Homo sapiens: one gene and its partners. The protein of the gene in region 2 interacts with the protein of the main gene of each other region in a pairwise test. Each region holds a gene or a part of one and is shown on either strand. Other genes may lie near its edges.

Region 1 (7,027 bases), on a different chromosome or scaffold from region 2:
CAGCGCGCTCTCCTGCAGCTAAGTCCCACAGTGCAGGGCCCAGAGGCTCTCCCCTCAAATGCACCCCAGGGAGGCCTGGGAAGCATCTGGACACACGTGATGCATCTTCCTTGAGCATCAGTTTTAATTAAAGGACCAAGGGGTAAAAGTTAAATAATTTGGAAAGAAATGGAAAACGTCTATTTTCTCTCCCCATGCTAATTTCACATAGATTTGAAGGGTAGTCACCGGCAGGCTCCGAATGGCTCCATCTTACACCAGACACCAGCTCCCATGTGGGAGGCACACCTCAGTGCCCAGGGAGGTGGCTCAGCACAGTGTGTGTGGGAGGAAGGTGGGGACACGGGGAACACTGTAGCTGCAGCACCGCTGGCTTCCAAGCCTGGCTCTCTAATCACTAGCCATGGGACCTTAACCTTCCTTGTCTGTTTCCTCATCTGTGAACGGGGCAGTAACAGTCCGTGCCTCCTGATGTGAGCAAGGAGTCAGGCAGCCAAGTGTGCAGTGAGGGTTTCATGGCCATTTGGTGACCACCATCGCAGTGGGGAAGGACAGCCAATAGCTCCTTTTGCAGATGAGGAGGCTGAGTGCCCCAGAAGGAGAGTGACCTGCCTAAAAACCAGGTCTGCTGACTCCTTCTCCATCTCTTTCTCACCCTCATGCTGCCTGTGCCTCAGTTTCCCTATCAGTGAAATGAGGGTAAAATCAGGGAATGGGATGGGTTTTTTTTAATGTGGTGAAACATACTGTCAGGCACCTCCAGGACCTGAGTTCCTTGCTCTCGTCTCTTTAACCGAAGCCGCCTTTAACTCCATCGTTTACAGTGTGCCCATGAATAGCTCAGCCTAGAACTGGCTTGTTAGGCAGATGGCATGATGTCCCAGGCATGTTTAAGTCAAGTAAGTTTCAATGACTCGGCCGGGTGTGGTGGCTCATGCCTGTAATCCCAGCACTCCAAGCACTTTGGAAGGCCAAGGCAGACAAATCGTCTGAGGTCAGGAGTTTGAGACCAGCCTGCCTAACATGGTGAAACCCCACTTCTACTAAAAATACAAAAATTAGCTGGGTGTGGTGGTGGGCGCCTGTAATCCTAGCTACTCTGGATGCTGAGGCACGAGAAGCACTTGAACCAAGGAGGCAGAGGTTGCAGTGAGCTGAGATCGTGCCATTGCACTCCAGCCTGGGCGACAAGAGCGAAAACTGCGTCACACACACACACACACACACACACACACACACACAAAGTTTCAATGACCCAATGATGTTATCCAAGTAAATTGGCCCACCCCGTCAGGCACTCCATGGACTTTTCCACCCGTACCTCACAAGCGAAGTATCCCTAGCCAGTAGGTGCCATTCTCTTCCCCATCCACCTCCCATCCACCTTCCAGCTCAATGGCCACCTCCTCCAGGAAGCCCTTCCTAAGCTCCCACAAACCCTTGGATTCTCTCTACACAGAAGCCAGACTCTGGGCCCCTGAGGGCAGGGACCAGGCAGCTGGCTGTCCACAAGAATCAGCTGGGCTCAGGCCCACATCCCATGTCCCTCTTCGCCCTACCCCCAACTCTGGCGTTGGTTTGGGGAATGGTTAGTCAGTGAATCGAATGAGGAGTCCACAAACATGATCCTAAAGCTGCCAACAGAGAGGCCAACCAAAGGACATCGACTTCTGAAACGGCTGAGTCTTAAGCATTGAGTTCTCAGCTGGACAAATGCCAACACTGCATTTCACAGGCAAGCGAGGGACGGCACAGAGCTCTCTGGAATCTACACAGCCTCTGTCACAAAACCCTGAAGTCGGTGGCCAAGGTGCTGTCCCCATCCCGCCAAACAATCCCACCCTCCTTCCCGGGTGGACTCTGCGGTTCCTTCTCCGGGGCCTTCACACTCCTCCCAAGGCAGCGGAGAAATTTCCAAGTCAGGGTGTGGCAGAGCCCGAGGGATTCTCAGGAGCCCCCCCACCCCCCACAGGATTGAGGGAAAGTGAAAGGCAGGGCCTCCCTGCCTTCCTGACGACCTCCGAGGCTGCTAGCGGATTGGTTTAAACTTTGGGCTTTTAGGCCGGGCGCGGTGTCTCACGACTGTAATCCCAGCACTTTGGGAGGCCCAGGAAGACGGATCACCTGAGGTCAGGTGGTCGAGACCAGCCTGGACAACATGGTGAAACCCTGTCTGTACTAAAAATACAAAAAATTAGCTGGCATGGTGTCAGTCCCTGTAATCCCAGCTACTCGGGAGGCTGAGGCACAAGAATCGCTTGAACCCAGGAGGCGGAGGTTGCAGTGAGCAGAGATGCAACACTGCAATCCAGCCTGGGGACAGAGCAAGACTCGGTGTCAAAAAAAAAAAAAAAAGTTTCTGCTTTTAACTCCCGGGGGGTTCCACCGCTGTGTGTTGAACCGGCCAGCCCCCCACCCCCTGAGTTTGAATCAGCGCAGCACCTGCCCCGGCCTCCGTTTTCTCATCTATGAAACGGGAATGACCTCACCCACCTTGTAGGTTTGGGGTGTGTGGGGGCGGGGGAGGTGCCTCCCCCAGGCGCTGACCCGACCTAACCTGAGACCCCAGGACGGAAGCAAAAAAGGAACATTTGAGCTGACACCGTCCGGCCAGACCAGACCAAAACGCAGGCTGAGAGAGGCGAGGGCGGGGAAGGCGGTGCGGGGTGAGAAGGAACAGGACAGGGGAAAAAGCAGAGGAGGGGAGTGTGGGGGGGCGGGAAAGAAAGGAGGTGAAGGGAGAGGGAGTCTAGAACCCACAGGGGACCCGGAGGCTGCGCGCCGGCCGGAGGGTCTCCCCCCGGCCGCACGTGGCGTCGCGCCCGCCTGGGCGTCCCTACCCGGCCAGCGGCCCCTTGTCCCCGTACACGCCCTGGGAGCCCCCGCGGCGCACCCCCCCACCCCGAGCACGGCCTCCTCCCTGCGCGCTCCCTCCCGCCGCCGCCCGCCTTACCTGGCCACGGACCCCGCCGGCCCCCACCTGCGTGCCGGGTCTGCCGCTCACCTGGCCCCTCCCCGGACGTGGCTCCCGGGCAGGCCCCGCCCCCCCGCCCCTCCGCCCAGCCCCGCCCCTCCGCCCCTGCTACCCGGCGGGAGCCATTTCCCAGGTGCACGAGCTGACCCTGGGTCCACCTGTGTGTCGGGGGGACAGGGCGGGGTCGGGCGGAGCACACGCGCTCAGGAGCCCCTCGCACATCGCACCCTGGGCACCCCGATTCCCGGCTGGGCCGCGTCCCCGTCCCGCACGGCACCCATGCCTGGGGCGGGCACTTTCTTGCTGATCCATTTCCCCATTTCTTATTTTATTTATTCATTATTTTACTTTATGTATGTATGTATTTATTTATTTATTTTGAGACGGAGTCTCGCGCTGTCGCCCAGGCTGGAGTGCAGTGGCGCGATCTCGGCTTACTGCAGCTTCAACCTCCCGAGTTCAAGCGATCCTCCCACCTCAGCCTTCATAGTAGATGGGATTACAGACGTGCGCCGCCAAGCCCGGCTAAGTTTTGTATTTTTAGTGGAGACCGGGTTTCACCATGTTGGCCAGGCTGGTCTCGAACTCCCAACCTCAAACGATCCTCCCGCCTCCACCTCCCAAAGTGTTGAAATTACAGGCGTGAGCCACTGCGCCGGGCCCCATTTTTAATTTTACTTTTTTGAGACAGGGGTCTCGCTCTGTTCAGGCTGGAGTGCAGTGTCTTGAACTTGGTTCACTGCAGCCTCTACCTCCTGGATTCAGGCGATCCTCCGGCCTCAGCTTCCCGAGTAGCTGGGACCGCAGGTGTGCACCACCATACCCAGCTAATTTTTGTAGTTTTTGTAGAGACAGGAGTCTTGCCATGTTGTCCAGGCTGGTCTGGAACTCCTGGGCTCAAGTGATCCACCCTCCTCAGCCTCTCAAAGTGTTGGGATTACGTGCCTGAGCTACTGCACCTGGCCCCTTTCGTTAGGGGTGTACAAAGCGTGGCAGAACTGGGAGAATTGGAGGGACTTGAGAGGAAATTTTCCCTAGGGTTTGTTGAAGGATTTGTATCTGAGGAAAGCAGCTTAGATACAACAAAATATATCAGGCCCAGAGAAACAGTAGTATAGGACTTCAGTCCAGGTCCCCCTGCAGTGCTTGGGGGGCCATAGTTTTTTGTTTGTTTGTTTGTTTTTTGTTTTTGTTTTTAGAGTCTTGCTTTGTTACCCAGGCTGAGAGTGCAATGGCGCGATCTCAGCTCACTGCAACCTCCACCTCCTGGGTTCAGGCAATTCTCCTGCCTCAGCCTCCCAAGTAGCTGGGATTACAGGGGCCTGCCACCATGTCCAGCTAATTTTTTGTATTTTTGGTAGAGACGGGGTTTCACCATGTTTGCCAGGCTAGTCTTGAACTCCTGACCTCAAGTGATCCACTCACCTCGGCCTCCCAAAGTGCTGGGATTACAGGCATGAGCTACCGCACCCGGCCGTGGGGGCCATGGTTTAAAGGCATTTTGTTCCTGACTCACTGCCTCACCCATTATCTGCATGTTCCTGCAACTTGTGATACAGAGAAAAATGTGTAGCCAATCAACAACTTATTATTTTTATTTTTATTTTAGATTCAAGGGGTACATGTGCAGGTTTGTTAGGGGATATATTGGGTGACACTGAGGTTTGGTTTTCTGTTGATCTCCTTACCCAGGTAGTGAGCACAGTACCCAATAGGAAGTTTTTCAGCCCTTGCCCTACTCCCCCCACCCTTCTGGAGTCCCCAATGTCTTTTGTTCCCATCTTTATATCTGTGGGTACCCAAGGTTTAGCTCCCCCTTAGAAGTGAGACATGTCATATTTGGTTTTCTGTTTCTGCATGAATTCACTTAGGATAATGGCTTCCAGCTGCATCTATGTTGCTGCAAAGGACAAGATTTCATTCTTTTTCATGACTGCATAGTATTCCATGTTGGAAATGTACCACATTTTCTTTATCCAATCCACTATTGATGGGCACCTCAGTTGACCCCATATCTAACCTATAGTGAATAGTGCTGCTATGCACATATGAGTGCAGATGGCTTTTTGGTAGAAAGATTTCTTTTCTTTTGGGTGTGTACCCACTAACGGGATTGCTGGGTTGAAGGGTAGTTCTATTTTAAGTTCTTTGAGAAATCTCCAAGCTGCTTTCCACAGTGGCTGAACTAATTTACATTCCCACCAACAGTGTATAAGTATTCCCCATTCTTTGCAGCCTTGCCAATATCTCCTATTTTTTGACTTTTTAATAACAGCCATTCTGTCCAAAATCAAGATGCTGGCAGAAAAAATAATAATAATAATAGCCATTGACTGATGTGAAATGGTTTCTCCTCGTGGTTTTGATTTGCATTTCTCTGATGATTAGTGATGTTGGGCATTTTTTCATGTTTGTTGGCTGCTTGTATGCGTGTATGTCTTCTTTTGAGAAGTGTCTGTTCATGTCTTTTGTTCTTTGTTTTTTTTGAGACAGAGTCTTGCCCTGTCACCTAGGCTGGAGTGCAGTGGCGCCATCTCGGCTCACTGCAACCTCCTCCCCTGGGTTCAAGCAATTCTCCTGCCTCAGCCTCCCAAGTGGCTGTGATTACAGACACACGGTACCACACTCAGCTAATTTTTGTACTTGTAGTAGAGATGGGGTTTACCATGTTGGCCAGGCTGGTCTCAAACTTCTGACCTCAAGGGATCTGCCTGCCTGGGCCTCCCAAAGCGCTAGGATTACAGGCATGAGCCACCGTGCCTGGCCCCTTGCCCACTTTTTAATAGGATTATTTTATTCTTGTTGATTCATTTAAGTTCCTTATTGTTTCTGTATATTAGTCCTTTGTCAGCTGCATAGTTTGCAAATATTTTCTCTCATTCTATAGATTGTCTGTTTACTCTGTTGATAGTTTCTTTTTGCTATGCAGAAGCTCTTTAGAACAATTTACTTTTTTTTTGTTTGTTTGTTTTTGTTTTTTTTTGAGACAGAGTTTCGCTCTTGTTGCCCAGGCTGGAGTGCAATGGCTCAATCTTGGCTCACTGCAACCTCTGCCTGCCGGGTTCAAGCAATTATCCTGCCTCAGGCTCTCAAGTAGCTGGGATTACAGGCACCCGCCACCATGCTCGGCTAATTTTGTATTTTTAGTAGAGACAGGGTTTCACCATGTTGTCCAGGCTGGTCTTGAACTCCTGACCTCAGGTGATCCACCCACCTTGGCCTCCCAAAGTGCTGGGATTACAGGCATGAGTCACTGCACCTAGCCAATTTATGTTATTTTAATGTAAATTCTTGGTAAACAATTTAGGAACTGCCTCTTCTTTTCCTTCAAAAACCTACTTGTAACTGTTGCTAATCACAGTGAATATTCAGGGCAACTTGAATGTATACTCCCAGGTTGCAGTCCTCAAACTTGACCCAAATATATTCTTTTTTTTTTTTTTTTTTTTTGAGACAGAGTTTCGCTCTTGTTGCCCAGGCTGGAGTGCAATGGCGTGATCTCGGCTCACTGCAACCTCCGCCTCCTGGGTCCAAGTGATTCTCCTGTCTCAGCCTCCCAAGTAGCTGGGATTACAGGCATGCGCCATCACGCCCAGCTAATTTTGTATTTTTGGTAGAGACGGGGTTTCTCCATGTTGGTCAGGCCGGTCTCGAACTCCAGACCTCAGGTGATCTGCCTGCCTCGGCCTCCCAAAGTGCTGGGATTACAGGTCTGAGCCACCGCGCCCAGCCCCCAAATATACTCTTACTTGTATTGATTTTGCCTCGGTTTTTTCCTTTGGATCAACGACTCCCTGCCACAATGATTATTTCAGGTTCTGGAAGGAACTGGGCCTGTGCCAGTCACCCCAGGCCTTCCTCCGGCCACAGTGAGCAGTTCAGGTCAGAGTAACTGGACTTTGCCTGGATGGCTGGGGCTTATTGTGCCCTCTCTTTCTCTCTCTCCAAGCCCTGATGACAAAGCCTGGCACATGGGGAGTGCTGGTGTTGCGGATAAAAAGAGATCTTTTCCTCAACCATGGCTGGGTTCATGGCTGAGGCCCCTATAACAAA
Region 2 (7,743 bases):
CTTTGACAGTTTCCCTACACTGCCTGGAGAGACAGCTGTGCCAGGGGATCGTGGCCTGGTAACCAGGTGTCTCCTGCCTCAACACCCACCACCGGGTTGTGGCCCTGAGGAATGACAGTCTCAGGGAGTCCCCACCCAGACCCTCCACGGTTCTGTGGCCCCTGGGGCCCATGTGCCTGGCTCCTTCCTCCTGGCTCTGCGGTGTTTCCACCTGAGACCCTCCCGGTCTCAGCCTGTGCTGCCAGGGAGGAGCCTCCACAGCCAGCCCTGGGGAGTTTCTCAGCTCCCAGAGGCATCTGGGCTTCCAAGAGAGCCTGAAATAGGCCTGTCTGAGTGTGAGGAGGAAGGTGTCAGAGTTACAACCAGCAGGGAGGGTGGGTGTTCCCTCTTGGTCTCCTCCCTGGCAGGGAATGGAAGTGTGGGGTCTGCCTCAGGCTCTAAAGCAACGCCTCCTCCACCCCCACCAATGTGGCAACTTCTCCAGGTTGGGGGTGTGGAAGTGCAGCTGCCTCCTTCCTGCCCTGCAGGCTCATAAGGGCTGAGGGTGCTGGCCTGGCGCAGTGGGGAGGGCAGAGGTGAGAGTGCTGGCCAGAGGGCTGCAGCTGGGGTCTTGACCTTGAGGATGTGTATGTTGTGTGTGGGAAGACAGGGTGCTGTGTCAAGACTGACGGGCCCAGGATCTGAGAAGGGACCTTCAGGAGCCCTTATCCCCCTTTCTTCCCCTTCCCCCACTGACCAGGCCCTGGACAGAGACAGGAGGAGAGAAAAAGGAAAGCAAGGCCCTGTGGGGCTTGGGCTGGCAGGGAGTGGCTGAGACAAAGCTGGGCCAGGCTGTCCTGGGGCTGGGCTCTAGTCCACAAAGAAGTGGAGTCAGAGTGGTGAGGGGTTACTCTGGGCACTGAGTGCATTGGTAATGACCTCCCCCAGCCCAGGCCCAGGCCCCTCTAAGAGACAGGAGTGGGGAACTGGAAGAGGGGTGTAGAGAGAGAAAGAAATCCTTGCTGAAAACTCGGACTGCCCAGACATGGCCCTGGCCTCGGTGTTTCGTTTCTCCCTTGGCATCTGCCCTACCCTGGTCCCCTTCCTGGGGAGGTTCAATGGTGTTCCATGATGTGGACGGTGAGCACTTCCTCCACGTATCCGCACAGGTACCTGGCAGGGGTTGGGACACAAAACCTCCAAGGTCCTGAGGACCCTGCCTCGCTTCTTCATGGTGACCCATGAGTGTGCCAGACGCATGCAAGGCCGGTGGGCTGCAGGTGCTGACACACGGCTGACGGCACCCTCCGAGGACGCAGTCTGGCACATCTGCGGCTCTGCTACCCACAATGTGCTTGTGTGGGTGCCAGCACCTGTGGGGATTGGTGGTTCCGAGCGTCTGAGGCCCTAGTATCCCAATGTCCCTCTTAGCTTCCTGCCACTCCCGACTGTGTTTCTGGGCTTGGGGGCTGCTGAGATAGCTGCCCCATCCTCAGGAGCGCTCCTCTAACTCCTTAGAAGTGCTTCCTGCTCTTTTTCCTCCAAAATCTGCTTCTGAGTTGGAATCAGGGCATATCATGGTGGAGCTGGGTCGGTCCCAGGCTTGGGAGAGGCCACAGGGAGAAGAAGCTGGAGATGGAGCAGGCCTGGTAGTCAAGGATGCACTAAAGCTGCCCTTCCAGAGCGAGGCTTCACCCCATCTGCACATGACAAGGCTGCCCTGCTCTGTCCTAGATTTGACCGCTTTCCTCTGCCAAGAAGAGGGGCTTGAGGGTGAGCATGGTCTGGGGCTCCTCTGCCTGCACCCCCAGGGACCAGCACGTGTGGAAAGAGAGCATGGATTTGTAGCTAGAGTCAGTGACTAGCTTTCGAGACTTGGACACATCACCTCTATAAGGATGGTGTGTGTGCTCTAAGCCTAGGTGTGTGAAGAACGGGGCGCTCTGTGTTTGTGGGTCTCTTGGGGGCATGTAGTGCCTGAATGACCCCTAAGCCCAAGCCACTGCATTTCCTCCCTAGGTGGGAGGTTTTAGGGTTAGGCCCTGTCTCCTGAAGCTTCTCTCTTCTTCCCCTCACCCTCCAAACTCAGCAGGGATTGTATCCTAGGGGACTGTTTGCTTCTCCACTCACCTGTGCCTGCCCTGGGCGCTCCTGCTGGCCCGTGCCCTCCAGCGGGAAGGGGGCAGCTGGGAACACTGGACCCCCCGGGCTCTCCTCTTTCTCAACCTCTGCTCTTTGCTCTCTGTTCTTCCAAGAGGCTTTGAATCCCGCAAGCCGCTGAGCTGGAGACAGGGTTCTGCTCCTCTTTGTCCCGCTTCTTGGCTGAGCCTCGGTTTTCCCATCTCTAAAATGGGGAGCCCCTGCTATACTACCTTTGAAAGGCCAGAAAAATGTGTGTGTCTGACAGTTTGGCTGGGTGTCTGGGGTGGCTGGCCGAGCAAGGAGTTCTGAGGCCGGGGAGAGGAGGGGGACCGAGGTGCTCTCCTGCATCTGGTTCCTAGATCCTGGTGAACACCGCGCCGGAGCCAGGGAAGGCTCAACCCAGGCTTCGTTCACCCCAAGGCGCCCCACGCCGCCTGCTCCGCCGACCTCGGACCGGCCCCATTCGCGGCTGGGGAGGTGGCGCTGGAGCTCGGACCCGGGCCCAGCCCTCCTCTGCCCGGAGCCGCTGCCGCCCTCCCTGCCCAGGGCCCGGCCGGGCCGGGCGACACCTACCTCACCAGGATGGCCACCCCCACGTCCTCGCAGTTGGCATAGAGCCGGGCCCACATAGCCTGCACCGCCTTCCTCTCCGCCTCGGACAGCTCCTCGCTCCGCTCCCTGCGCTCGATCTCCATCTCGCCTGGCACTTTCTCCATGAGCAGCTCCAAGCCCAGCCCGGCTTTGCTCGGCGGCGGCGGTGGCGGGGCGCGGGGCGCGGGGCGCGGGGCGCCGGGAGCCGGGGCCGGCTGCGTGCGCGGCGGGCGGGCGAGGGGTAGAGCGCGGAGGGAGGGAGCGTGTGTCTGTGCGCGCCGGGTGTGTGTGTGTGTGTGCGTGCGTGTGTGCAGGGTATATGTGCGGGGGGCGGGGGACAGCCAGCGGTGGGGCGGGGATGTGGTCTGCTGGAAAATGTTTAAAAAAACAAATCCGCTCCAAACCCCCAGCCCCGTGTGGGTAAGAGCCAATGCCGGCAAGGTGAAGGCTGCGCGGGGTGGGGGCGACGCGACTGCCGCCCGCCCACCCGCAGGCCACGGCGGAGTTGCACCGCGGGGCGGGGCTCGGGTAGGTGTGGCCGGGGCGCTGGGGGTCCCGGGAGGAATGGGCGGTCACGCGGCGCTGGGCGGCGCGGGCCGCACAGGAGTGCGCTGGGGCGGGCGCGGGCCGGGAGCGCTGGGTTCCGGGTCCCAGTGCTTGCGGCGTCGCGAGTGTGCGCGTGCGGACCCTTCCCGCGGCGGGGAACTGACTCAAAGTCCAACACTCCCGAGCTTTCGCGGCGAGGCCGACCGCCAGCCCGCCCGTGGGGGCGAACAGGAGCCCCTCCGGCGGCCGCCGTGGACCTAGCTGGGCTCCCCTCGCCCGGGCCTCTCCCCGCGCCCCCGAGCCAGCCGCTGGGGGCCGCGGCGCCACTCCCACGGCTCTGGACGCCCAGGCTCTGGGGGGTTAGCACGGGGGTCGTCCCCCTGCCCGCCCACCGCCCCGGCTGTCGGAACTTGAGCGCACCTCCGACCTCGGGCGCCAGAGGCCTGCGCCCCCTCTCCTTCCGCCCAGCACCTCCATGCCCTCGGTGCACGAACGCGGCGGCGGCGGCCAGAAGTCCCCCGTGGCTTATGAATGACACGGACAGGCAAGAACCAGCCGCTGCCCTGAATTCTAGCCCAGCTGGTGGCGGAGGAAGTCCAGAGAGGCACCGGATAGGGCAGACAGGACCTGGCAGACAAAAAGTCTTGAGGAAGGCGCAGGCTGCTGGGGACATCTCAGCCGCCACCAAGGGCCCGATTCCGGGCCTGGGGGAGGCAAATCCTTCCTCCTGGTGGGCCCTATCCAGGGCAGTGTGAGATTGGGCCAGAGGTGGGGGGAGAATCCCATGGTGCCTGCCCTGCAGCGGCTGCTCAGTCCTGGGGACAGCCTGAGGCCAGACAGGGCCTGGCAGTGTTGGGAAGAGATGTCACTCAGGCTCCCGGCGACCCCTGTCCTCGCTCAAGACTTGATGTCCCATTGCCCAAGCATTGCTAAGGGTTGGCTCTGCGCTTTCACTATGGTTCATGTATTTATTCTTAAAATCCGACTTTAAGGTCCGGGGGAGGCGAGGAGAACTCACCCTGGCCAGCCTCAGCTGCAGCCTGGGCCCCTCCTGGGAGCTCAGGGTTCAGGTGCCTGGGGGACCCTGAGGCAGTGCCTCTGACACTGTCTCCCCCTTGTTGAGGGAATGAAAATCTAATGCCTCCTGGGGGTCTTGGAGGGGCTGGAGGGGAGCGGGTGGGTTCAGGTTCTCACACCACTCCCAGACCCATGTCTCAGCGTGGCCATGGCTGGCTCCATGCTCCACACACACACTGAACAGCTTCTCAAAGTTGGTGTGACCAAGTGGCTGCCCAACAGGTCCCCTTGGGATGTGGAAAGAAAATAGGAGAAATCGTGTAACTATTTCTTTTCATCTCATCCTTTGCAAATGTAATATAGTCGTATGGTGTAGGAATGAATCTGTACAGTAGTCTAGCATATAATTTGTAAGTGGCTGCACCTGTCTATTTTGTGAGTGCACACTTGAATTCTGCCTTTTACTGAAGAGGGCGTGTAATCAGAAAAGTTTGGAGAGGATTGTCCAGAGGGTAAAACTGCCAGCCCTTCACTGTTGAGTCTCCCGTCTCTCTGGCTTCATTATCCAATATTCCTCCCCTTTCTTCCTCCTCTCCTGATGCTTCCACGGTGACATCATTGCTTCACCTCCATTCACCTTGCAGTTACTGGCAGATGCTCCATGCTTTCATGTCAGTAGCTTCGGCAGCGTCTTCTGTCTGAGGGCTCATCCTGCCTTGTGCACTGCAAATTCAGAGGCCCTTGCTCCTCTTTAAACGTTGCCCTGATGCCTGCAACTCTGAAAGTGCCCTGTAGGCGCCTTGAATAACTCCTGGGTCACTCTACTGCAGTCATTGTACTTGACAGCACATTTGTTTAGAGTGGCAGCTCCTTGCAAGCAAGGCCCAGTCTCATCAGATCGAGACTCCGAATACGTGCTCAATGCCACAGTGCATGCCTTGACCCTACCGCTGGAGGGGAGAACCTGGGCCCAGTGAGCTTAATCAGTCCTCACAAGGTCGGGGCCGCTGACCCACTAATCAGCTTGAGCCTCCTAATCCATCCCCAGCAGGAACCGCAGGACAGACGGCAGTGGCTCCTGAGAGCTGGCTGGGGCCATTTTGGCCCCTCGCCTGTGGCCTTCTGCAGACTTGGCCTGGGAGGGGATGGGGCAGCTGCGCCATGTGCACCACCCTTTTCCTGCTCAGCACCCTGGCCATGCTCTGGCGCCGCCGATTTGCCAACCGAGTCCAACCGTGAGAAACTGACCGGGCTATGGCTGGCGGTTGGTCGGGGGGGGGGGGCATGGGGCTGGGCTGCCACCAAGCTGAAGGTGGGCAGGGGCTGCGTGAACCTTCAGCGGGGCTGGGAGGGCATTTTGAGGAACCCTTGAGAGAGCACAGTCTCAGAGCAGGGGGACTTAGAGCTTCAAAGGCTCTAGTTGCAGCCTCTACTCCCATAGCCCAATGCGGCCTGGACCTGTGGAGGGACAGTGAGGGGCTGGGCACAGCCATAGCTCTTCCTCCCTACTCTTGCCTCCCACAGAGAGCCCAGCGACGTGGATGGGGCAGCTAGGGGCAGCAGCTTGGATGCGGACCCTCAGTCCTCAGGCAGGTAAGGCAGGAGTCTGGGCTGGGGGAGGGAGGGTGCTGCCAAGGAAGCTGTGGCTGTGCATGCCTGGGGGTGCACGTGTGTGCCTGTGCGCGCCTGTGCGTGCACCGTATCCTGGCCCTTGCCCTAAGCACCCTGCTCCCTGTCCGCCTGCTGGGCAGGCTGGATGTCTGTTTTCTGCGGTTGGGAATGGGAACCCTCAGCTCGCTCCTCTGGACCAAAGCCGCTGTGCCTCTCATCTCCAGCACGGGGCGGTCCCCCGGGGCACCTTCTGTCAGAAGGCACAGGGGAGTGGAAGGAGGGATGAGGCAGGAGTAGCTCTGTGTGGCTTTGCTCGCCTTTCCTTGCCCTTCCCCCTCCTCCTCCTCTGCCCCCGCCCTGCCTCAGCTAGGCTGCCTGAGCCTCCAGCAGGATTCGCTGTCCAGTCCCCAATAGAAGGCGCGGGAGGAGCATGACATCATCAGCATAGAGTGCCATTGGCTGGGCAGACCCTGCGGGCAGGACGCTGTCTCCAGTGGCCAGAAAGTTAACTCTTCCCTAGGCTGGAGCCATGTGGTCTTTAGGGGGTGAAGTTGGGGGAACTTCCAGACTTTTCCTTCCCTGGGTGACCAGTGTCGTTCGATGATAGGGGCGCCTATCCCAACCAAACACTGGAAAAAATCAGCAAATCTTTATGAAGTTCCCATGCATGAGGGGTTCCTTCTGTGCCTATGGACTCACCTAGCGTGGGAGACCTGTCTGAAGAGTGACTTTTTTGCTCCCAGTGAAACAAAGAGTAAAAAAGATCCGATGACATCTTTGGGTCAGGGCGCACTGGCAGGAGGGTGTCTCCACACAGGGAAGACTCAGGTGGCGGGTACTGTGACCATCCATGTCTCTTTCTGAGTGGGGACCTGCCAGCAATGTGTCCCTTAGATATGCGGAAACTGGCAACCGAGAGAACTTCCGTCTTTCTGTCTCCTGTCGTCTGAGTCCTGGGATTCTGAGTCCTGAGATTCTGATGATCAGAAGGCCCAATGGGAAGCCCTGGGCCTGTACAGGAAGCGGAGGCATTTCTGCGACACCTCAACTCGATAGGCCAGCTGGCATCATCATAATAGTGCCTAATTGATATCACTAGTTAAATCAGCTACAATGACCACCCCTGGGCCTCCCCCGATAGGAGGCCCTCAAATGCTGGGTGGTCCACGCTATTGAGCCCGGGTCTAGAGTTGGGCAGGGAGAATTTAAATTCTGGCTTCCCTCTTACTAATGGAAAGACTATGGGGGAAATTTATGCAATCAGTTTATTTATATGTAAACTAGGATTAATAACAGTGGTTGTGAGGTTTTGGTGAGGGTGCAGAGTGATTGCTCCATAAATGCTAGCAGCTGTCTTGTTTCATGCTCGGGACCTGTGCTTTAGTTTTCTCCAGAGGTTTCCTACCTATTAAGTCACTCGGGAGGCTCAGTAACCCCAGAGGATTGGCAGGACATGTGTTTTTAATCTTTGGTTAATGGTTGTGGAAACTGAGGGACAGGGAGATTTAGGTGGCTTGCTCCAGATCATCTATCTCATTTGTGGCTAATGCGGGATGCTCAGGCCCGATTCCAGGCAGGGTCTCTTCTACATGAAATGGGCCTGGACCTCCTGGCAGGAGAGAAAAGGCCAAATCTGAGGACCATCTGGCCAGGCCTGGCCTGGCGTGACTTAGCCAGAAGGAAGCAGTTGCCTATTAACTCCTTGGGACCCAGTTAACTGGAAAAATTGGTCTGACATCGAGGAACCACCTGCCGATGGTGGCTGCCGTGGAAGGCTGGCAGTGGGGGTGACATTTCTACTCTCCAGTCACACTGTCCTAAATGCCAACTGATTCCTTAGGTGGTCCTGCCCCTCAA
Region 3 (7,693 bases), on a different chromosome or scaffold from region 2:
GAAAGTTCAACCATCACTCATATGGGGAAGTGGGCCCAAACAAAAGGCATGAACTATCCTAAAATTGGGAGAGAACACAGAGAAAAATGAATGCTAGGTGAAGATATCTTTGTATAATCCACAAAAAAATAAAATATTAAACCAATTAGTGCTAAAGGTTTTACCCAGGGAGCATTCATGAGTCTTTAATGGTTCGCTGATAAGAAGCCACAAAAGACACTTTAATATGAACACTCAGTTATGGGAAGGAAATTAGAGAACATGGAAATGTGGAAGCCAAACTTGGAAATGGGCACTGAAGAGGAAATTGATAGCCAGAGTGTCAATGCATGCATGCGGGTTAAGGGAAGCAGGATACCAGCTGCAAGAAGTTTACTGGGAGGGGTTTCCCACGCCATTGTTGTGGTCTACAAAAGTAGAAAGCAGGTAAGATGTTCAGAGAGCTGGGTAAGTTAGTCACATGGAAGCTGTGAAAATTTCTAGAACAAATAGTAGGGAGATATGGGGTAGTACCTAGAGGGGAGAGAAGTGTTCATTAGTGATTTCTTTACATTCTAGGTGATGTGAACCTGCTGAAATGCTGCAGGGATTTCAGGCAAGTTAGCCTTGGCAGTGAGAACAGATACAAAGAGAGAAGGAGGTAGGAGGTGTGTGTGGGGACGGGGGAAGTGGGGGAGATTTTTATTGTTCTGAGATAGGTCTAAAATGAAGGACAGTATATCAGTCAGTACAGGCTAACTGCTATAATAAATAACCACACAATTTTGGAGTGGCTTAACCCAAGAAGATTTATTTCTTCACAGTCCAATGCAGTTTTCTTGGGAGGGGAAATTATCAGCTCTACACAGTCATTCAGGAGCTCCGGCCTTCTTCCATCTAGTGGCTCCTCCATCTCTTAGATCCTAGGAGTCCTACCATGAATCCTCTACAAATGGCCAAATTGGCAAAAGAAAGCTCTGGAAGATTGTGTTAATAATAGTTTCAGTTTCAGGAGCTTTCAGGAGCGGCACCTGGGAGTGGCTTATTCTACTTCCACCCACATTCCATTTGCCAGAACTCAGTCACAGGGCATGGGGCAAATGACTGCAGGCATGCTGGGACTTGTCATTTAGCTGGGTGCCCAGAAGGAAGGGAAATGGGATTGGTGAAGCCATATAACCATCTCTAATCCAGATGGACACAGAGTATTCTTTAGCTCAGACCAGGGTGAGTATGTTAACTGCCTAAGGCAGTGAAGGACAGGAGATGGAACAGTTCATTTCATTAAAGGATAAAGTGGGGCATATAATTTTCCTGAACCCTTACTCCAAGCTCCAAGGCCAATTTTAAAGGATGACAGTTTGAGCCAAGGACCTGTTCAGTAAAATTTGGAGTAAAGCTTTTCAAATAGTGCCAAAGAAGCAACCAAAAACAAAAAAAAAAAAAGAGAGAGAGAGGATACATCAGATGGCACCAGCAGAAAAGATCACATACATTTGATTGACTCCTAATCACTCCCCTGTAACTTTTTTCCCCACACAAATTCCTCACACCGGAAATGTTCATTTAAAACAATTAAAAATCCTTCAGGGAACCCCCACCCCACTCCCTGCTACCACATGATCAGCCCAGGGGCTCACATGCTGAAATCTATAGAGAGCTTTAGGTCTCAGAGTATTTGAAGGATAGGCAGGGATCTCACCACCTTAACACAGAAGCAGTCCTACACCCCAATCAGGGAAAGCCTTGGACACTATCTATTGCTACCTTTAGCCTGGGGCAAAGGAGAAAGAGAACTGCACAGCTGTCCTAAACAAGTAGGGTATGAGACCTCTCTCTTCCACCAAGAATAATAATAAGATAGCCTTGATTGAAAACTCACTGTGCGTCAGACACTATGCTTACATGTATGAACTCACAACAATTCAGTGAGGTAACCACTATTATTATCTCTTTTTTACAGATAAGGAAGTTTCCTGATGCCCACAAAGTTTAAATAACGGACTCGAGGTTACCCAGCAATAAATGTTGAAAAAGAGTTTAAATTAGTTGGCTTTCAGAGTTTGTGTTTTGGACAACTATATTCTACTTTGGACAGCACTGTATTTTCTCATTGTAAAAGCAGGCAGGATGGAGTAAAAAATAAAAGTCAAAACAATTTGAAAACAATATTTTGTGATGAACATAAAACATTTTCTACAATCAGCATCCTTCATTTGATTGTCTTACTTTATTATCTGGTAAGTGCCAAAAGAAGACAAAGTGTAGATGTATTTTCCTTAGTTTACTTTTAGCTCCCTTTATTTCAAGCCTCACAGTCAATGTGTTCCCTGCCTTATGTTTCAAGGGGGCTCCAGGGTATTTTTTCTCCCATGTGATTACAAAAGCAGTTAGCCGTTTAGCCTAGCAGGGGGAATGAGAGGAAACGGAGAGGCCAAAAATTTTAAACTTTAGGCACTATATCTCCAATAACTGACAACATTTTATCTTAATTATGCTTTATAGTATTGGAATACTAAACAAAGAGGAACGACCTGCTTACTCTGTAGTCTGGAGCAGAATGAAATAGAACACGTAGGGCAGAACACAACAAATGAGTTGTAAATGTCTGTGCACAAGGCTTGATCTTGGGGATGGAGGGAGGATATTTTTTAAGTTATTCAAACGCTGAGTTGCTTTCAAAGAGTTCTTCTCAGACATCAACAATGAACTCTTCAGATACCCTCATCCCAGACAGCCCTGAAGTCCAGTTTATAACAAGACCAATAACTCACTCCTTATCTCTAAAGCTACTTGTTCAATTCTCTTGACTTCAGGGCCAAAATGAGTTGTTTATTACTTATGGCAAGTATAAAAAAGGCCATCTCAACCTGTGGTCAGTTCCACGAATGGCAACTTGTTTTCTGATAACTTGCATGCACATGGACAATAGCCAAATTTCCAAAAAGATTTAGGTACATCAATTGTATACCGATGGTCATTTAAAACCATTTTTTCCAGCAATATTTTAGCATCTAATTTGATAAATCACTGCATTTGGAGGCTGTGGGGGTGTACAGAGACCTTCAGAAAGCAAACATAAACTGGAGGCTTGGCGGTTTGAAGATATTCAAGCAGAAAAGTCTAGCAAAGAAAAAGGGGGTTGTAATATGGATCAGTCTCCATGTAACCTTGAGCCAATCATCTAACTTCTCTGAAACACCAGTTTTCTCATTTTATGAAACAAGATTTTATTCAATAAACACTATAACTTAGTGAAAGACTGGATCTGGTATCCCGTAGGCTTGGATGGATTGCTGGTACTAGTATTGGAGCTTTTGTTTCCCTGTTTGTTACAATTCGGATATTAGTGAGTACCCTACAGAGGAATAATGATTAAATTGTCTACTTAATTTACTCTTAAGTGTCTGACCACGTATAAGTGGTCAATACAGGCTGTTTTCATTTTTACTATTACTGATGGAACACACTGCATGACTAGCATTGGGAAAGAGGCCCAGAATACAAGGTTGTGCAGAATGCAAAGTCTATTCTCAAGGAATTCGCTTTGTAGGGAAGAGGTGGGGGGTTCAAATAGGAAGTATCAAATTCCTCATTGGGAAAGAAAAGAGGCTTCATAGAAAAGCTGCTGGAGCCCAGGCTTAAAGATGAGTAGCATTGGGGCCAGAACCAGATGTCTAAGAACTCTTTGAGGCTTAATGTTAGGAACTTTTGAAACTATTGGTCTGGAATGTTGTATATATGAAGTTCATTTTTTCAGCATCCAATATTCAGAACACATTCATTCATTAACTTTCCATCCAGAAATGTAATCATTAACTACTGCTGGAGCCTCCTTTCCCACAAAACCAAACAAAACTTGCTTAGCAATCCCAATTCTGAGGCTTGGAAAACACTTTTACATCCTACTCTCTGCTTGCATGTATGAACTCACATACATGAGTTGTGAGGTACTCCTCCTATATTCAGAAAATTGGAGGCCAATATCATAGGCACAGCCAGGGAATGCACCGGCCAAAGCTCAGGCTTTTGGGTGGCATTTGACACCAAGCTCCTTTTAAATCGGGCATCAGCTCTGGGTCAGCAGCCTCACTCCAGTCAAAGAAGAGGAGCCAAACGTCGCAGGAGCAATTTCAAAGACGTCTGGGGAACGAAAAGGGTCTTCGATCCAAGGACCAGCCTAGGGGCCATCGGGAACCAAGGCTCTGGGGGATCCCAGCAGGGCCCAGACGCCCGCCTCGGGCAATGTCGCTGCCTGCCCCGGGCCGCTCGCAGTGCCTGGGCCATACTGGGGTGCCCTGGGGTTTCTTCTCCATACCCAGACTCAGCTTCCCCGCTGGAGTCTGTCTTCCTGGAACACGGAACGCGGGCGGGCTGTGTTCTCAGTCACAATCAGCTCGGATGAGCTGGGGGGCGCGGGCGCAAGCGGGCATCGGCACCTGGCAGAAAGCGCCGCGCCCCCCGCGGGTGCGCACACCTCCGCTCCCCGGGGCGGCGCGCGGTCGGGTGTGCGGGGTACGGGGCGGGGCGGAGCGGAGCAGAGCAAAGCGCACAGGAGGCCCGCCTCTGCTCCCCTCCCCCGCCGGCGAAGATTGACACAGCTCGAGCACCCGCCCCAACCAATGAGCGCGTCCTGGGGCGGGCCCTGGGACCGGCTGCTCCGGCTACTTAGAGTCGTCGGCGCGGCGGTGGGAAAGCAGAGCCGAGCCGGGACTGTCCAGTGGGAGCAGGCGCCCCGGCCAGCGCAGACCTGGAGGCGCACGGGCGCCGCACCGCACGATTCGGCTCGGGGTAGAGCGGAGCCGCAGCCCCACGCGCAGCCCAGGACCCACTCGCCACCGCCGCTTCCTCAGCACCCATGGGGACCAGGAGACTTTAAAGGAGTTTGGGGTTTCGGGAGCAGGGAAATCACGGGTAGGGAGAAGCGGCTTTCTTTGCCTTGGAAACGGTTTTTCTTCATCCGATTGTTTGGATCCTGTGCTGGGTAGGAGGGAGAGGGGTCTTTGGGCTAAAAGTGAACCTCTCTACACACACACGCTCCCACCCACACCCACACACATACACTGCACTGGCTTTCTCCATCCTTCCCCTGCCTCTTTGTTAGGTTATTTTAGACAGAGCAGCCTCGCCCTGGCGCAGTCCCATTGGCCCTGATGGGGACAAGGCAAGAGAAGTAAGGGGCAGAGTGCACCTGCCTGTGAGGGCAGGTGTGCCCGGGTGCTTGGGCGTACGTGCAACGGCGAGCGTGCAAGCGTGGAGCTGAAATTGTGTACGAATGTGTGGGGTCTAAGTGTGCCAGTGTGTCGTCGCGAAGGTTTGTCATTGTGGGTGTATGTGACATACACCAGTATACCAGGCTGCCAGTGTCTGGACTCCCAAGTGTCCAAAATGTTGCTGGTGTCAAGTGAATGCCTGAGAATGTGTCTGATTGTCATTGTGCGAGCCGCTGTAAGGGGAGGAAGGCAACCTAGTGCAAAACTGGGAGGTGGGCTGGAGAGGGTGGGGACAGAAATGGGAGCTTGCTCCCAGCTCACTGGCCTTAGGCTCCCTTCTCCCTTTCAGCCCACCCCTCGGTCCTTCCTGGGTGTCCGTCTCCCACACTGCCACAGCCAGCACTCTCCTCCCCACCGGGACCCCGCAAGCTCTCCAGCCAGCCTGGGTGTTTTCTTCTGGGAGTTGGACCGAGTTCCCGGAAGGGGTCGGAGGCTGTGTGGTGGCGTCTGCTCTCGCCTGACCTGTGGCGGCTTCTCCGCCCCTCGTACCCCTGGGGAGGCACGGAGGACTCGGCTGGAAAGGGTGACTCCGGTGAGGGCACGTAAGCTAGCCGGCAGGTCCCAGGGGCACTGCACGTCTTGGGGAGGGACACCGAAAGGGGCAGCCCGGACTCTGACGGTGTCTCTGCCTCTCTGTGCCTCCGCAGATCCCCGCTCCTGGCCCTCGCCTCGCCACCTCATTGATGGGCAACCAACTGGACCGCATCACCCACCTCAACTACAGCGAGTTGCCCACAGGGGACCCGTCGGGGATTGAAAAGGACGAACTGCGGGTCGGGGTTGCCTACTTCTTCTCGGATGATGAGGAAGACCTGGACGAACGCGGGCAGCCCGACAAGTTTGGCGTGAAGGCCCCCCCGGGTTGCACCCCCTGCCCGGAGAGCCCCAGCCGCCACCACCACCACCTGCTGCACCAGCTGGTCCTCAACGAGACTCAGTTTTCCGCCTTTCGGGGCCAGGAATGCATCTTTTCCAAAGTGAGCGGTGGCCCTCAGGGCGCCGACCTAAGCGTCTACGCGGTCACCGCGCTGCCAGCGCTCTGCGAACCCGGCGACCTGCTGGAGCTGCTGTGGCTGCAGCCCGCGCCGGAGCCGCCCGCGCCCGCCCCGCACTGGGCCGTCTACGTGGGCGGCGGGCAGATCATCCACCTGCACCAAGGCGAGATCCGCCAGGACAGCCTGTATGAGGCGGGCGCGGCCAACGTGGGCCGGGTGGTGAATAGCTGGTACCGCTACCGCCCGCTGGTGGCCGAGCTGGTGGTGCAGAACGCCTGCGGCCACCTGGGCCTCAAGAGCGAGGAGATCTGCTGGACGAACTCGGAGAGCTTCGCCGCCTGGTGCCGCTTTGGCAAGCGGGAGTTCAAGGCGGGAGGGGAGGTGCCGGCAGGCACGCAGCCCCCGCAGCAGCAGTACTATCTCAAGGTGCACCTGGGAGAGAACAAGGTCCACACCGCCAGGTTTCACAGCCTGGAAGACCTCATCCGCGAGAAGCGCCGTATCGACGCCAGCGGCCGCCTGCGAGTGCTCCAGGAGCTCGCCGACCTCGTGGACGACAAGGAGTAGCCGCCTAGGGGCTGCCGGCCCCTCTGCCTCCCCCGCACCTCGCTCCCTTCCCTTCCCCGCACCCGGACTTCGCAGTCAGCGGTTCTCAACCTCTGCCCCGCCCCGCCACGCGCGTCCGCCGCCGGTGGCCCGGGCCCGGGCTGCACCCCCGCATCCCCAAGCCAGCGGCAGGAAGTCTCAGGAACTGCCCCAGGGCCGAAAGGGCGCCGCTGCGAGCGCCTGGCTGACAGCCACAGCGGTGGTGACGGTGCTGGGAGACCCCGCGTGCGCTTTCCCCTTGAGATGTAAACCGGGAACGGGGAAGGGGCTGAGGGGAGAAAGGACATGGCCTTCCCCGCGAGTCCATGGCCAGTGACTGTGGCCCGACTCGAAAACAACCCTCTTCTCAAAAGGGACCATCACCGCCCCGAGCGTGCGCACACAGACCGGTCGGAGGCGAGAACTGGTCTCTACAGGGCACAGTTCAGCTCCTCTGTGGATGCGTCCCCAGATCGCAGGATTTCCAAGAAATCGAGCCTGTCCCTTGTGCACTTGGGAATAATTCCCCAAGACAGCACTTCGGGATTCCGGGTTATCCTGAGGCTGCCCGGGACTTTTCCAGCTCTCCAGCCCCAGGTCTCCTGACATTGTGTTCCAGGCTGCGGGCTAAGCCAGACAGTGTTTGCCTCCGGTTCTTTCCACCGTGGGAAGCGAACGCCACCCCCACCCGCCTTTGCCTGCGAGTCTCCCTCGCTGGCAGAAGGGAAGCCGGCCCGGTCCCGGGAGGAAGATGGCGCTGCGAATTCGGTGAGGACAGCCGGCCCCGCCCCCGACAAGGAGCTCGCTCGTTCACCTGGTGTCTGGGAACTTGAATGTGTGAAGGGCGCTTATTGTTCTGAA
Region 4 (5,704 bases), on a different chromosome or scaffold from region 2:
CCTCTTTGACTTTGCATGGGTTCCCATGCTCTGGAGTGTACTTCCTGCTCTTCCTTGTTGGCTGGGACTCTGGGAGTGATCCCCTAGAGAAAGCCTTCCCTGGAGTCTCCAAGTTGGCTTCATGCATCTCATCTGGGCTCCTTGGCATCGTGTGCCTTTCCCTCCTGTGCTTACCATATTGTACCATCATCCTCTAGGGCTCCAGGAGGGCAGAGATCCATTGTGTTCAGTTCATCTCTGCATACTCAGTCTCTAGTGCAAGGCCTGGCACAGCCAGCAGGTTGGTGACTAATGATAGTTATTCTAATAGGTGAACATTGAGAACTCACATATATGACATTATTTAATCCCCAGGACCTCCCAATGAGGACAGTTTGATTATTATCACCCCATTTTACAGATCATACAATTGAGGCCAAGAGAATATTAGTAATTTAGCCAGGGTTACATGGTTAGCAAATGGCTCTAATAGGTCACTTAACCATTCCATTCTCTCTCCAAGTGAAAATTGCCACCAAGGCCAACCCTTGGGATGGAAAATCACTAAAGCCTGACAGTGTCCGGTCCCAGCTGGAGACGTCATTGAAGAGGCTGCAGTGTCCCCAAGTGGACCTCTTCTACCTACACGCACCTGACCACGGCACCCCGGTGGAAGAGACGCTGCATGCCTGCCAGCGGCTGCACCAGGAGGTGAGGGGGCCCTCCGAGCTCCAAAGGTGGGCTCCTGCTCCTTTCTTTATCCTGATCCTACTCATGAGAGCAGAGGCACCAGGGCAGTCCCAGGGTGGGGCAGGGAATAGCCCCATTCCCTGGGGCCCCACCCTGGCCTCCCCTTCCTGGTCTGGGCTACACTGCGTTCTGACTGGAGCCTCACCCATGCAGGGCAAGTTCGTGGAGCTTGGCCTCTCCAACTATGCTAGCTGGGAAGTGGCCGAGATCTGTACCCTCTGCAAGAGCAATGGCTGGATCCTGCCCACTGTGTACCAGGTGAGGGCCGGGGCTGCAGAGGCCAAGGTCTCCAGGACTCCTGCTAATCCTGGGCTCTCTTTGCCCCCCTGACTGCCCCCTGTGCCGTCTGCATAGCAGCCACTCCCCTGCTGAAAGCCTGCAGATGGCTCCCATGTACCCTCAGGATGCCATTCAAGCTCCTCAGCCTGGCCACTGGGCATCTGCTTCCTTCCTGCCTATCTGTGCACCTTGGACCCTTCCTTCCCCACCTCCTTTCATACTTCAGCCTGGAACACATTTCCCCTGCCCTCCTCCCTGGGAGAAGCACTCAGGCCTTACATAGAGGTCTCCTCCTCTGGAAGCCTTTCTAGACAGCCCCATAGGAGTCTCCAGTCTCCAAATCTCATCTTCATACATTCAGCGAGTACTTTCCAGCTCCTTGTTTGATTGTAGAACCTAACTTTATTGTAATTAACTGCCTTCCTTGTCTATTTTTTTAAACTTGAGTAAACATCTCCTGGAAGCAGGGATTTTGTGATACCTACTTGTGGTTGTAACCAGTGTCCAGCATGGAGTTCATACAGCAGATATTTGTGGAAAGATACCATTCCACTTCAATTTTCTGTCCTTGGGCCCAACACCTTCCCTCCATCCCCTACTAACAGTAGTGATGTTAGAATATTGCTGAAGTCCTGGGCCGGTGTTGCTTTAGAGGTTTGAAAGTGGAAGGCAACAGTTCCTTCTCTTGACATGTCCACCCTGTCCCCGGGGTCCCTCTCCCTGCAGGGCATGTACAACGCCACCACCCGGCAGGTGGAAACGGAGCTCTTCCCCTGCCTCAGGCACTTTGGACTGAGGTTCTATGCCTACAACCCTCTGGCTGGTACGTGGAGCATTCCTGACCCTGTCTCAGCCTATTCCTGACCCACAGATGCCCAGCCCAGAATTTATGAAGCAGGGAGGGTTTGACAAGAGGCTGGGCTGTGTTCTTCAGCCCCTCCTGGGTCCCTGCCCCTCCCCTAGACCAGAGCCCTGAGGGATGTGGCAGCTTCTGGGGCACTCTGGGGCCAGGGGCTGATTGCTGCCTTCCCGCAGGGGGCCTGCTGACTGGCAAGTACAAGTATGAGGACAAGGACGGGAAACAGCCTGTGGGCCGCTTCTTTGGGAATAGCTGGGCTGAGACCTACAGGAATCGGTGAGCCGGGGGTGGGCTTGGTGAGGATGGCTGGGGTGGGGTCAAATCTATGTGGAATGAAGTCCTGGGCTGTTCCTGAGGTAAGACCTTCCTTTGCTGTTTGCATCTCCTCCCCTGCATTGCTTCAGGAATTCCCAAGCCCTCTGTGGGTTTTCTTGTTGTCTTGAGACCTCTGGGGGGGAAATGAGGATCCCTGGATGTTGGGGTCTTGAAGTCATAGCTCGTTCCTGAGCAATCACCTGCTGGGAAGCAAAAAGCGAGCCCAGGATGGGCCAGGCATGGTGGCTCACACCTGTAATCCCAGCACTTTGGGACACCGAAGTGGGAGGGTTACTTGAGCTCATGAGTTCAAGACCAGCCTGGGCAACATGGTCTCTACAAAAAAAAAATGCAAAAAAGTGGTCAGGTGTGGTGGTGCACACCTGTCTGTAGCCCAGCTACTTGGAAGGCTGAGGCAGGAGGATTACTTGAGTCTAAGAGGTTGAGGCTGCAGTGAGCCATAATGATGCCACTGCACTCCAGTGTAGGCAACAGAGTAAGACCATGTATCAAAAAGCAAAAAGAGAGCCCAGGAGGGAATCCTGCCCCATCTGAGCAGCCTTCGTGTCCCTAGGGAAGTCCCTAGGCTACTGAGTCCTCAGGAGTAAAGATCCATTGAGGTCTCTGCTGAGGGGCCCAGCATCCTGGGTGGTTCTGATGCCCAGCAAAGTGGGAGACCTATGACTAGAGAGGACACCCGCCCCTCAGGGCTGCAGGGTGTGGGGTGGGGCAGTGGTCCTGGATGGCTATTTGGTTGCGGCTCCCAGTGTGACCCCCATGGTACTGACCCCTGTGCTAACATCCCCTCTGCACAGCTTCTGGAAGGAGCACCACTTCGAGGCCATTGCGTTGGTGGAGAAGGCCCTGCAGGCCGCATATGGCGCCAGCGCCCCCAGTGTGACCTCGGCTGCCCTCCGGTGGATGTACCACCACTCACAGCTGCAGGTAACCAGCGACCCTGGGTGCTCAGCTTCTTCCCTTCCAGGGGGACCAGCGTCACCTTTAGGTGAAGCCCAAAGCATTTGATTTCTGAATTCCTCTGAAATTTTTCTTTCTTCCAATTCTCATAAGCACTCTTCCCACTGGTCTTTGATGGTATCTGAGTGGAGGCTTTGTAGTGAGGGATTTTCATTACAGGGATTTTCTTATTCCTTAGGCTTTCTGAAGTATGATTATCCCAGTGTTATTGATGAGGAAACCGAGGTTCACCCAGCTATTAAAGTGGCAGACATTTTAACACAGGTTTAACTAAGACCCACCCATCTCACCCTTTTGGTTTCTCTCTCTTGATGCCTCATGTCTTCCTGGTTAAAACTTATTTCCTGATCAGTGGCAGTGACCCACACCTGTAATCCAGCACTTTGGGAGGCCGAGATGGGAGGATTGCTTGATCTCAAGCATTTGAGTCTAGCCTGGGCAAGAAAATGGGACCCTATCTCTACAACAAATCAAAAACATTAGCCAGGTTGTGATGGCTTGCTCCTACGTTCCCAGCTACTCTGGAGGCTGGGATGGGAAGATGGCTTGAGCCTGGGAGGTCAAGGCTGCAGTGAGCTGAGATTACACCACTGCACCTTAGCCTGGGTGACAAAGCAAGACCCTGTCTAAAAAAAACAAGCAAACAACAATGAAAATAACAGCAACAAACTTATCTCCAGCTTCAGCCTTCCATGTTGCATAGTGTCTGGCATATATCCGGTAGATGTTCAGTACGTGGGAGCTGTGTTTTACATAAGTTTTCTCATTCCAATGCTGAAAACAGAGAAAAAGATTGAATGTCATGCCTGCATCGACAGCACATATACTAAAATTGGAATGATACAGAGAAGATTAGTATGGCCCCTGCGCAAGGATGACACGCAAATTTGTGAAGTGTTCCATATTTTTCCGCTGCCACCACCACACCGCACTACCTCCCACCCCCTTTTGTGTACAAAACACAAGGAAAAATATTTTTGTTTGAAAAAAAAAAAGATCGAATGTCAAAACAAGCTTAATAACGTAGCCTGCTTTTTAATTTTTTTGAGACAGAGTCTCACTCTGTTACCCAGGCGGTAGAACAGCAGCACACTCATAGCTCACTGCAACCTCAACCTCCTGGGCTCAAGTGATCCTTCTGCCTCAGCCTCCCTAGTAGCTGGGACAAGGCATGCACCATCACCCCTGGCTAATTTTGTTTTGTTGTTTTTTGTAGAGACAGAGTCTCTCTCTGTTGCCCAGGCTGGTCTTGAACACTTTGGCTCAAGTGTTCTTCCCACCTTGACCTCCCAAAGTGCTGGGATTGCAGGCATGAGCCTCTGTGCCCAGCCAACTTAGCCATTTTTACACAGCTGCTGGGGGCAGAACTGGGCTGTGAATGTAGTTCTGTGTGGAAGCGTCGTGCGGCAGTAGGGGAAAGGATGCGGGTTTCAAGTCACGTGGGTACAGCTATCCAAGGCACCTTAAGTCCTTTCTGGACATACAAGATATAAATATAAACAGAGACCCCAGATCTCAGCAGGGAGGTGGCTGGGACGGCTGTGAGTGGAGTCGCTGTGCAGCAGAAGAGGGTTGAAGTCTGGCCGTCTCCCTTGCAGGGTGCCCACGGGGACGCGGTCATCCTGGGCATGTCCAGCCTGGAGCAGCTGGAGCAGAACTTGGCAGCAACAGAGGAAGGGCCCCTGGAGCCGGCTGTCGTGGATGCCTTTAATCAAGCCTGGCATTTGGTTGCTCACGAATGTCCCAACTACTTCCGCTAGGCCCATCATGGCTCAGGCTGCCCAAGGCTTTTCTGTCACCTCTTTTGTTCTCTCACACTGACCAGTCTTGGCCTTAAGCTGACTTAGAAGGGTTTTTCTGAATTGTCTAGATCCATGCATTATTTTTCTAGCTTCCTGCCTTGCTCCCTATTCACTTTACACTGTGAAAGGTGGGGGGTGAGTCCCACTTGAGCGCTTCCTGTTGAATAAAGCAGGCACTTGACCTGGCTGTAGCCTAGGTCTTGAGTGAACCCCAAAAACTTGCTTTCTCTGCTGTTAACACTTTGTTTCCCATCCTACCTGGGGACTGAGAAAGGGCAGAACCATGGGCTGGAGTCTTCAGAGGGCAGAGGTAGTAGGAGGGTCACAGAAGCACACTGCCCTCCCAGGGTCTCCTCGGGCCCCTGGTCTGAATACCCACCTGACCTCTCAACATTGAGGTGTCTCTCACTCTTCTACACACGATAGAAAAGAGAGTCATACACCTGCAGTACATTTTCTCTAATTCAGAGTTGCCTCAATACATTCTTAGGAATGAAACAACTGGGACAAAGAAACTACCATTAGAGTCACTACCAAGAAGAAGAACACTTCCCAGGATCTGTGGAACATCTTGAAGCTCTCAATCTTAGCCTCCTCTTGTCTTAACTAAAGCCTCTTGTCTTTTCACCCATTAGGTTCTCAGTCTTGGCTCTGGGCCTCCTGTTCGGCATGGGGACAGACATAGGCAGCCAAGGTCCTCATTTCCCTTGGAAACCCCTACTCCAAACAGGAGGCACCAAGG

The links.
Region 1: the proteins of CYGB (region 2) and ARHGAP8 interact in binary tests that used the Homo sapiens proteins (3 or more experiments, as listed by UniProt).
Region 3: the proteins of CYGB (region 2) and LRATD1 interact in binary tests that used the Homo sapiens proteins (3 or more experiments, as listed by UniProt).
Region 4: the proteins of CYGB (region 2) and AKR7A2 interact in binary tests that used the Homo sapiens proteins (3 or more experiments, as listed by UniProt).

Annotation. Positions count from the first base shown.
Region 1 is NC_000022.11:44,748,554-44,755,580, reverse strand, and holds the start of ARHGAP8 (rho GTPase-activating protein 8), read right to left. Parts: upstream 3,007-7,027; 5' UTR 2,954-3,006; intron 1-2,953.
Region 2 is NC_000017.11:76,534,706-76,542,448, forward strand, and holds the start of CYGB (cytoglobin), read right to left. Parts: upstream 3,005-7,743; 5' UTR 2,838-3,004; coding exon 2,695-2,837; intron 1-2,694. Other genes in the region: photoreceptor disk component PRCD, read left to right, coding at 5,437-5,510, 5,800-5,868. UniProt on the Homo sapiens protein: Probable multifunctional globin with a hexacoordinated heme iron required for the catalysis of various reactions depending on redox condition of the cell as well as oxygen availability.
Region 3 is NC_000002.12:14,628,045-14,635,737, forward strand, and holds the start of LRATD1 (protein LRATD1), read left to right. Parts: upstream 1-4,672; 5' UTR 4,673-4,893; intron 4,894-5,541; exon of another isoform or gene 5,542-5,784; intron 5,785-5,899; 5' UTR 5,900-5,935; coding exon 5,936-6,814; 3' UTR 6,815-7,693. UniProt on the Homo sapiens protein: May play a role in cell morphology and motility.
Region 4 is NC_000001.11:19,303,441-19,309,144, reverse strand, and holds the end of AKR7A2 (aflatoxin B1 aldehyde reductase member 2), read left to right. Parts: intron 1-502; coding exon 503-690; intron 691-882; coding exon 883-987; intron 988-1,734; coding exon 1,735-1,831; intron 1,832-2,043; coding exon 2,044-2,143; intron 2,144-2,997; coding exon 2,998-3,127; intron 3,128-3,796; exon of another isoform or gene 3,797-3,934; intron 3,935-4,758; coding exon 4,759-4,920; 3' UTR 4,921-5,180; downstream 5,181-5,704. UniProt on the Homo sapiens protein: Catalyzes the NADPH-dependent reduction of succinic semialdehyde to gamma-hydroxybutyrate. May have an important role in producing the neuromodulator gamma-hydroxybutyrate (GHB). Has broad substrate specificity.